2 separate regions of the Homo sapiens genome follow, and region 1 is linked to region 2. Evidence: fine-mapped expression QTL. A gene starts in region 2. The other region holds a variant in brackets. All regions are shown on one strand. Distances are from middle to middle. Region 1 has its middle 7.3 kb from the start of KRTDAP. Region 2 holds the start of DMKN (dermokine).

Evidence for each region. PIP is the estimated chance that this variant, and not a neighbour inherited with it, causes the effect. A credible set is the group of variants that fine-mapping cannot tell apart.
Region 1: its variant is the best candidate, but not a certain one, in a credible set for the expression of DMKN in NK cells (Gilchrist 2021, PIP 0.77).

Annotation. Positions count from the first base shown.
Region 1 is chr19:35,480,482-35,485,851 of GRCh38, reverse strand. No RefSeq gene overlaps it. Among named protein-coding and RNA genes, the nearest start is that of KRTDAP, 7.3 kb to the left of the region's middle. RefSeq lists a silencer at 1,034-1,123. The variant G/TTG (reference allele first, on the strand shown) is at 3,152.
Region 2 is chr19:35,510,456-35,515,825 of GRCh38, reverse strand. DMKN (dermokine) reads left to right here and starts at 2,177. Exons shown (of 16, transcript NM_033317.5): 1 at 2,177-2,776; 2 at 3,036-3,236; 3 at 3,349-3,405; 4 at 4,013-4,063; 5 at 4,233-4,415. The coding sequence starts at 2,351. RefSeq lists an enhancer at 5,338-5,370.

The sequences.
Region 1 (5,370 bases), 30 kb after region 2:
AATTTGTGTACTTAAAATACTAAACTAGTTGGAATTGTTTCTGGTTTCTCTTGAAAACTGGGAAGATTAGAGAACAGTGGACCTGCGACTGGCTTAAAGCCAAGTAGCAGCTGCCCTCTTTACACAGGACATGGCTTCCAGGGAACTTTCTACTTGGCAAGCTTCACTTGTTTACATTGCCTTTGGCCTTTATAAGCAACTGCGTTTGTAAACCATCAACTGCAGTTTAATCGAGGAAGTGGACTACAAGGGAAATTAAACTTGGTTCCTACTTTCAAGGCGCTTACAGACCAGGTGAATGAGACATGTAAATGTTCCTGGCCGGGCACGGTGGCTCACACCTGTAATCCCAGCACTTTGGGAGGCCAAGGTGGGTGTATCCCTTGAGGTCAGGAGTTTGAGACCAGCCTGGGTAACATGGCAAAACCCCATCTCTACTAAAAACACAAAATTAGGTGGGCGGATCACATGAGGTCAGGAGTTCGAGACCAGCCTAGCCAACATGGTGAAACCCCATCTCTACTAAAAATACAAAACTGAGCCGGGTGTGGTGATGCATGTCTGTAATCCCAGCTACTCAGGAGGCTGAGGCACGAGAATCGCTTGAATCCGGAAGGCGGAGGTTGCAGTGAGCCAAAATTGTACCACTACACTCCAGCCTCGGTGAGAGAGCAAGACTCTGTCAAAAAAAAAAAAAAAGTTGCTTATGCTCTTCCTTCCAATACACACAAAGGAGAGGAAAGCTATAAATGGAATAACCAACAGAGAAGAAAACTATGGACACTGGTGAAATGCCACAATCAGTTGAAATACTTAGTGAAGATTGTGCACTCACAAACTAGGTGATAGGAAATGGAGTACAGGAAGAAGAGGGGAGGTGCTTAAGGGACACCCATCGAGTGACTAGGTTTTAGGGGAGGAGTAAAGCATCCCCAGGGGACTAGGAGTCACGATACACAAGTTAAGAGTATCTCTGAGATAAGGCGGTAGTTCTCAAAGTGTGGTCCCCACGCTGGCAGCACCAGGATCCCCTGGGAACTGAAAAGAAATGCAAATTCTTGGGCCCCACTTCAGATCTACTAAGTGCGAAACCAGGGGTGGGGCCCAGCAATCTGTGTTTTGACAAGCCCTCTAAGCAAGTCTGATTCACTAAAGTCTGAGAACCACTTCAAAAAGGAACGTCAGAGAACTTAAGATTAACCCAGAATCAGGATAGTAGTTGCCCCTTAGATGGAGAGATCCCATGTGATAGGAGAGTGGCACATAGGAGATAAGGGGGGACGGTGTGTGACAGAAGCCACTTCTATATCATGTTTCATTTCTTCTTTAAATATGTACATTTTATGCACACCTATGCATGTTGTATTTCACAATAACATATTATTAAAGCCAGAGAACACCAGATCAATTTGCAAGTGCTGACAGAATACACAGTCAAGAAACAATTGGAGTCTAGAGAGACTGCAATCTGAACCAAAAAGAAAAAGACAAAGTGAAGTGTAGACAAGCTGTGCACATGAGTGACAGATGTATACTAGCTAGATCATGTGAAATTGACAAAATGCACAAACATGGGTCAGGCCATTCAGAGGATTCAAAGAATGGAAGACATAGCACCTGTTCTCCCTGGGGATGACCTGTACATTTCCCATCAGGTAGAGGAGATAACTCAACACTGGAGACTTGAATCTGCATAAGCAAATCTTATTAAATAACCTTTATTTAATAAAAGGCAGGAAGTAGTCACTCTTCATTTTATACTTTATAAAAACAATAACAAATGCATTTTTTTTTTTTGAGACGGAGTTTCACTCTGTTGCTCAGGCTGGAGTGCAGTGGTGCAATCTTGGCTCACCACAACCTCTGCTTCCCAGGTTCAAACGATTCTCCTGCCTCAGCCTCCTGAGAAGATGGAATTACATCTTCTACATGGGTGCCCGCCACCATGTCCGGCTAATTTTTGTATTTTTAGTAGAGATGGGGTTTTGCCACGTCAGCCAGGCTGGTCTTGAACTCCTGACTTCAGGTGATCCGCCTGCACTGGACTCCCAAAGTGCAGGGATTACAGGTGTGAACCACCATGCCTGGCCAACAAATGAATCTTGTGTGGATACTATACCATCTGTTCAACAGGATGTAGAGATATACACTGAGCTATGAAACAATCTCCAAGATAGAGTAAAATGAAAAAAAGAAAGTGGCAGATCATTATGCTGCCATGTGGTTAAAATAAAGATATGGTACAAATATATGCTATTATCTGCATATTATCTGCTATTATCTGGAATAAAACTTGAGAAGTAACAGTGATAACTTTTGAAAAGTTAGATACTTTCACTGTGTACCCTTTTGGATTTTATGAACAAAAATGTTTTACCATGTGCAAATTACATATTCAAAAGAATAAATTAAAATCAAAACTTTCTAGTAAAGCAAACAAACACCAAAAAAACGCTTTGCACTGTAAAGTGGTAGGGCCTAGTCCATGCAGTGACCCAGAGTAGGTGCCTCTTAACTGAATGAATGAAACTGATTTCTCACATTTACCACACCCTTTTGCTACTCAGAGTGTGGTCCCCGAGCCAGCGGCATCAGCATCACTTGGTGCTTGCTTGCTAGAAATGCAGAAGCTCTGCTCACCCAGAGCTAATGCATCAGAATTTTAACAAGACCCCTGCCCCTGGATGATTCACATGTGGAATAACGTTTGAGAAGCACGGCCTTGGGCATGATGTTGAGTGCTATGCAGAAGGCCTTCAAGGAGTTATGATCCAGTTGATACTTACGATAAAGGAAGCATCCAGGGAGAAGGCACTAGATACCTTAGAACGATATGTTTAAATCTGACAGAAGGGAGGAGATAGTTTTGCACCAGGGTAAGAAAACTGGGGAAAGTAACTTTGAATTTGGCATTCATAAATGAACTTAAAAAAAAAAAAAGTCCCTGTCATACTCAGCCAGGACATAAAGGGACTAAAAACCAAAGCCAAACTAAGTGATTACTTTGGGAGGCTTCTGGGAATCAACTCATTTAAAAAACTGGTAAATAAAGGAAATGAATCAAGGATTCATCCTTACTTTCCTCTATGAACTATATACTTCAGGGTAAACAGTTTCTCTCTCTCTCTCTTTTTTTTTTTTTTTTTTTTTT[G/TTG]AGACAGCGTCTTGCTCTTTCACCGAGGCTGGAGTGCAGTGGCATGATCTTGGCTGGAGGCAGCCTTCACCTCCCTGGCTCAAGCAATCCTCCTGCCTCAGCCTCCTGAGTAGTTGGAACTACAGGCACAAGCCACCACACCTGGTATATTTTTAAATTTTTTGTAGGATGGGTGTCTTGCTATGTTGCCCAGGGTGGTCTTCAACTCCTGACCTCAAGTGATCCTCTGGCCTTGGCCTCCCAAAGTGTTGAAATTACAGGCATGCGCCACCATGCCCAGCTGGCACAATTTTTCTTTATACGAGAATTTGAAACTAATAAATGCAAAAGAAATAATAGAATATTTTCGTTTTTCAAAATTTAATAAAATAATGAATGTAGGCTAGCATCTGTAGGGAAGGAAAAAAACATTTTTTTCTACTGTCTTAGGTTCAGTGGCTGTGGCATGCTAATTACATTAACAAAAGAGGCCAGGCACAGTGGCTCATGCCTGTAATCCTAGCACTTTGGGAGGCCGAGGCAGGTGGATCACCTGAGGTCAAGAGTTCGAGACCAGCCAGACCAATATGGTGAAACGCCATCTCTACTGAAAATACAAAAATTAGCTGGGCATGGTGGCGCATGCCTGTAGTCCCAGCTACTCAGGAGGCTGAGACAGGAGAATTGCTTGAACCTGGGAGGCAGAGGTAGCAGTAAGCCGAGATCACACAACTGTACTCCAGCCTGGGCGACAGAGTGAGACTCCATCTTAAAAAAAAAAATTAACAAAAGATAGATTAGCAGGAGAAAAGGCTTATTATGCATGCATCCAGGAGCTTCACAGAAAAGAAGTGAAAACCTAAAGAAGTGGCCAGGCTTGAGGCTCATATACCGTTTTAACAAAGGGTGATAAATCGTGGAAAAGTAAGCTGGGCATGGTGGCTCATGCCTGTAATCCCAGCACTTTGGGAGGCTGAGGAAAGCGGATCACTTGAGGTCAGGAGTTCGAGACCAGCCTGGCCAACATGGTGAAACCCCATCTCTACTAAAAATACAAAAACATTAGCCAGGTGTGGTGGTGCACACCTGTAATCCCAACTACCCAGGAGCTGAGGCATGAAAATCCCTTGAACCTGGGAGGTAGAGGTTGCAGTGAGCCCAGATCACACCACTGTACTCCAGCATGGGCGACAGAGTGAGACTCTGTCTAAAAAAAAAAAAAAAAAAAATTGTGGAAAAGTGACAAAACGGTGAAAAAGGGATTTGGACATCCAGGTGATGTAAATTGTGGGAAGGTAAGTAAAATATACAGGGGAAATTAATGGAAGATAAAGGGTTATTTAGCAAGATTTGCTTATGCAGATTCAAGTCTCCAGCGTTGAGTTATCTCCTCTACCTGATGGGAAATGTATACCCTGCTTTAGGCAGAAAGGGAGAGGACAGAGAGTTCCTCTTCTGTCTGCTGCTTCTTAATTGCCTTCTACTCAAAATAATCCTTATGCTAAAGCAGCATACTTTGGAGTAGCACATGCTAATCCCTTCACATTAATGACTGCCAAACCCGGCAGGTGAAATGCTGATGGGGAAATTTATGGTGGTGGATCAGGCTCACAACCAGTGAACCCATGTATCTATCCAACACCCAGAGAGAGAAGAGACAAGCTTCTGCAGACCTGATGCAACAGAAAGCACAGGGCCCCACATAGGAAGCATTCTTGCCAAAAATCAACTCCAAACCTGATTAAAACTCTAGACTCTAGATCTAACTACCAGTTTGCAGGGGGATGAAAAGGCACAGAGGAACACAGTAAAGGATTCTACAGGAAAGATGTTAATAACTCCCCCCAACCTTGGCATTTCCTGTGAGAAATTCTAGAAAACTGATAATCCAGCTTCTTCAACAAAAACACTGTAGAAGAGTCGGGCACGGTGACTCACGCCTATAATCCCAGCACTTTGGGAGGCTGAGGTGGGCAGATCACCTGAGGTCAGGAGTTCGAGACCAGCCTGACCCACATGGAGCAACCCTGTCTCTACTAAAAATACAAAATTAGCCAGGTGTGGTGGCACATGCCTGTAATTCCAGCTACTTGGGAGGCTGAGGCAGGAGAATTGCTTGAACCCAGGAGGAGGCAGAGGTTGCAGTGAGCCGAGATTGCACCATTGCACTCCAGCCTGGGCAACAAGAGCGAAACTCCATCCAAAAAAAAAAAAAGCCACTGTAGAAAAAAAGGGAAAGG
Region 2 (5,370 bases):
TTGAACTCTGGAGGTGGAGGTTGCAGTGAGCCGAGATTGCGCCATTGCACTCCAGCCTGGGCAACAGAGGGAGACTCCATCTCGAAACAAAACAAACAAACAAACAAAAAACAAAGAGAGTGCAGGAGCTGCAGCAAGCATAATGTAATACCACTGTTTGCTCATGCCTGTCATCCCAGCACTTTGGGAGGCTAAGGCAGGAGGATCGTATGAGCCCAGGGGTTTGAGATCAGCCTGGGCAACACAACAAGATCTCATCTCCACAAAAATAAAAATTAAAAAATTAGCTGGAGGCTAGGTGCGGTGGCTCACGCCTGTAATCCCAGCACTTTGGGAGGCCGAGGCAGGCAGATCACGAGGTCAGGAGTTCACGACCAGCCTGGCCAACATGGTGAAACCCTGTCTCTACTAAAAACACAAAAATTAGCCCAGCGTGGGATTACAGGCCCAGCATGCGCCTGTAATCCCAGCTACTTGGGAGGCTGAGGCAGGATAATCACTTGAACCTGGGAGGCGGAGGTTGCAGTGAGCCAAGATCGTGCCATTGCACTTCAGCCTGGGCAACAGAGTAAGACTCTGTCTCAAAAAGAAAAAAAAAATTAGCTGGGTGTGCTGGTGTGCATCTATAGTCCCAGCTACTTGGGAGACTGAGACAGGAGGATCGCTTGAGCCCAGGAGGTCGATGCTGCAGTGAGCTACAATTGTGCCAGTGTACTCCAGCCTGGGCAAGACCCTGTCTCTAGAAAAAAAGAACCATCTCCCAGAGTTGTATAATTCTTAAACTGCTTGTGCTTAGTCCAATGCTGGGTACATACAGAACCGCTGATAAGCTGGAGCTGTAATTATTATTATTATTATTATTATTATTACCACCATCGCTATTATCATCATTAACGAGTCAGAGATGGAATAACAGGGAAGTAGGAGCTGAGGAGGACAGATGGGGATAGTGTTTACAAGGTAAGAAGTGTTGGATGTTATAAGCTGGGGTGCGGATATTGGGGTGGAGAGAAGAGAGAGACTGACTGAGAGACATTGAGAAAGGCTGATGGAAACTGGCCCCTCCTAACTGGGCGATGAACCCCAGTGATACGAAACAGTGGGAGGCCCTGTGGCCCCTGGGAATAGAGAAGCAGCCACACTTGCTGGGCAGGGGTGAGGCGGGGGGAGGCTCCCAGGTTCTGTATCCCGAGCTGGGACTGGGGAGAGGGCCGTGGCTCTCACGGATGGCTCCTGACCTTGCGCTACCCTCTTCTCGCTTGCCATTGCTGCCCTGGCCCCTGGCCTGGGGGATGGGTGGGGTGAGCTGGCCCAGTCCCGCCCCTCATAGGCGCTTATACTCACACGTGCCCCTCTAGGGCTGCGTAAACAGGATGGGTGCCTGGGTCAGCGGCTCCCTCCCTTGGCCTTCCCTCCCACTCGTTCCCTGGGGGTGGCTGGCGCGCCTGGCTGCCCTGCTCCGCGCCCAGCTTTCTCAGCCGGGAGCAGCCTGAACGCTGAGACACCCTGCTGACCACTCAAAGGGCTATGGCCACCTCCTTCCCCGACACCGAGGGTCCCCCCGGGGGCTCTCCCCAGAATCTCAGAAACTGACACGCAGCCCCGTGTTTGCCAGTCTCTCTCTGTGGGCTGGAAGGTGTGGAGGAACAAGAAGGCAGTCACCTGTAGGTGGCAATGCGGGAGGGGAGAGGGAGAGGAGAGGCTGAGGTGCTGAAACCGAGAAAGGCCAGGCCGAGGACGGGCAATGCCTGTCACTCTGGAGCCCCTGAGCCAGGCTGGCTGAGCCTGGGTGGGTCCTGTCCCCTGGGGCTTCCCTGTCCTTACTCCTTTGGTGGGGTCCTGCCAGTAACTCCTCTCTTCTAAGTCTGCCCCCACCCCACCGCCTCCAGGAGCCAACGACAACCTGTCTCCTTAGATGCCCCTGCCCCCACCCAGCTCCCCGAATGCCTGGGGTTGGGAAATGGGAGCACTTTTGCATCACCTCATCCATTTCTCCCTCCCTCCCTGATGCGGCTCACTCTCTGTTTCGACAGAGACTCTCAGACTCACAATAACAGCTGATTACCCTATTGGTGGCTGGGCCCTGAGTCACTGCGGGGAGGGACCTCAGGTTGCCCAGCCCTGTCACCTTCTCCCAACCTAGAGTATAAGGAGTAGTGACAGGGAGGTGGACTCTGAGAAGCCCAGGCAGTTGAGGACAGGAGAGAGAAGGCTGCAGACCCAGAGGGAGGGAGGACAGGGAGTCGGAAGGAGGAGGACAGAGGAGGGCACAGAGACGCAGAGCAAGGGCGGCAAGGAGGAGACCCTGGTGGGAGGAAGACACTCTGGAGAGAGAGGGGGCTGGGCAGAGATGAAGTTCCAGGGGCCCCTGGCCTGCCTCCTGCTGGCCCTCTGCCTGGGCAGTGGGGAGGCTGGCCCCCTGCAGAGCGGAGAGGAAAGCACTGGGACAAATATTGGGGAGGCCCTTGGACATGGCCTGGGAGACGCCCTGAGCGAAGGGGTGGGAAAGGCCATTGGCAAAGAGGCCGGAGGGGCAGCTGGCTCTAAAGTCAGTGAGGCCCTTGGCCAAGGGACCAGAGAAGCAGTTGGCACTGGAGTCAGGCAGGTTCCAGGCTTTGGCGTAGCAGATGCTTTGGGCAACAGGGTCGGGGAAGCAGCCCATGCTCTGGGAAACACTGGGCACGAGATTGGCAGACAGGCAGAAGATGTCATTCGACACGGAGCAGATGCTGTCCGCGGCTCCTGGCAGGGGGTGCCTGGCCACAATGGTGCTTGGGTGAGTGGCTGTGGGGCTGCATGTGGAAATGGGAGGCTGTGGGCTGCTGGGCTGAGATTCTTGGGAAACGGTTGAAAGGATGGATGGATCTCTTACTTGCAGGCTTCTGGGGCAGCTTCCTTCTATGTTCTGCCCCCCTCCTATGCCACCCTGGAGTCCCTCTGCCTGTCTCTCTCCTGGTCTCTTTATGATTTGCCCTGGCTCTTCTCTACCAGGGTCAGAGATGGTCCCACTAAGTGCAGGTATGTTGTTCTTGCAGGAAACTTCTGGAGGCCATGGCATCTTTGGCTCTCAAGGTGGCCTTGGAGGCCAGGGCCAGGGCAATCCTGGAGGTCTGGGGACTCCGTGGGTCCACGGATACCCCGGAAACTCAGCAGGCAGCTTTGGAATGAATCCTCAGGGAGCTCCCTGGGGTCAAGGAGGCAATGGAGGGCCACCAAACTTTGGGACCAACACTCAGGTAAAGTCACCCCCAGACCTGCTACCTGCCACCTCCCTCCCTCCAAGCCCACATGCTCCGCGTGCCTCCCTGGTCCCTCTGGATCCTACTCTCAGTCTCACCCTCTCTGCAGGGAGCTGTGGCCCAGCCTGGCTATGGTTCAGTGAGAGCCAGCAACCAGAATGAAGGGGTAAGAGGAAGGGGCTGGGAACAAATGAAGAAGCCACTGGGTGCAGGCTACAGAGAGCTGGGGAAAGACAAAGAGGAAAGCAAGATGGGGGAGTGGAGGGATTGGGGTGAGAGGAAGAGATGGGGCTGGGCGAGGTGGCTCACACCTGTAATCCCAGCACTTTGGGAGGCCAAGGCACGTGGATCACCTGAGGTCAGGAGTTCAAGACCAGCCTGGTCAACATGGTGAAACCCTGTCTTCACTAAAAATACAAAAATCAGCCGGTCATAGTGGCATGCGCCTGTAATTGCAGCCACTTGGGAGGCGGAGGCAGGAGAATCACTTGAACCTGGGAGATGGAGGTTGCAGTGAGCCGAGATCGCATCACTGCACTCCAGCCTGAGCAACAGAGTGAGACCCTGTCTCAAAAAAAAAAAAAAAAAAAAAAGGAGGAAGAGACGGGCCTGGGCCTGGGGAGGAGGCAGATGGGAAGGGGAGGTGGGAGAAACACATTAGGAGAAAGGAAGCCAAGCCCCAAAGAATGGGAGAGGCCTGGCCTGTGTCCATGGCCGAGGCCAACGTCTCCAAACTCACCGTCCCCAAACTCACCATCCCTTTCCCTCGACAGTGCACGAATCCCCCACCATCTGGCTCAGGTGGAGGCTCCAGCAACTCTGGGGTGAGTGGAGAGGGGCAACCCAGGAGTTGTGCACCAGGAGGAAATGGAGAAGTTCTGCTCCCCTTAGACTGGGCATCATGGAATATGGCCTGGGTGGAGAGGGAGGGAGGAGGGGCCCGTCTTGGTGCTCTGTCTTTAATCCCAGCCCTGCTCCCTTCCTGCCCCTCAGGGAGGCAGCGGCTCACAGTCGGGCAGCAGTGGCAGTGGCAGCAATGGTGACAACAACAATGGCAGCAGCAGTGGTGGCAGCAGCAGTGGCAGCAGCAGTGGCGGCAGCAGTGGCGGCAGCAGTGGTGGCAGCAGTGGCAACAGTGGTGGCAGCAGAGGTGACAGCGGCAGTGAGTCCTCCTGGGTGAGTTTGGCACCTCTGTGGAAGGCTGAGATGGGGTGAGGCCCTAGTGGTCCCTGCCGGGAGAGGGCTCCAAGTTTCTCTGAAAGCTGCCGCTGCCCGAGGATGGGCGGCCTCGCTGATAGTCGTCACCCTGAGGCTCCCTCAGCCTCCTGTTCCCCACCCATGCTGTGCCCCTGATGCGCGCACTATCGTTTCTGCCAGAGCCACCCCACTGCTTCTGACTCTGTATCCCTATTTTCCACTCTGTGATGGTGGGGACGTTATCCCGCCTGTCTAAGCTCTTGCAGTCAAGTCCACTTGGCAAGTCTCAGGAGACCGTGGGGTGGCGGAGAAAGAGGGGGACATGGGAGAATATGACACTTGTCTGGGAAGCTCCCAGGAGAATGGGGGCAGGACTGTGATCCGGGAGACCTACGGACGCTGACAGAGCGACGGTGCAGACGACATTCACACATGGGGCCCCTGCACGATGGGTGTGAGGGCAGGAAGGGGCGCTGTGACCCCGCAGCTGCCACCCCAGGGCCCCGGGCCTCACTGACTCCAGAGCCGGCAGTCTCTCCAGCCTCCTGGTCAATGGCCTGTCCAACCCCTTGGCTGACGGCCTCTCCCATCCCGTGTCTTGGAGTCGAGCTGGAGAGGGAGCCACATCTGGCTTCCTCGGGGGTCGGGAAAAGTGTCAGACAGGAGGAGGTGCGTGGACACAATAAGCCGAATAACCTGAGCTGCTCTCATGCGCCGCTCCCCGTATGATCCTCCTCTCCCCCATCTAGGGCAGTTCTGGGAATGGTGACCAAGGCAGCTACGGCCGCTCCCAGGTGAGGGCTCTAGGGTCCCTTCCACTTGCTGCCCCCTGGTGGCAGGATCGCGGCTACTGCGCGGCCGGGCTCCAGGGGTTCCCACCCCCGGCCTGCGGTGGGCAGCAGCTCAGGTTCTCCAAATCATTGCGTAGTTCCGA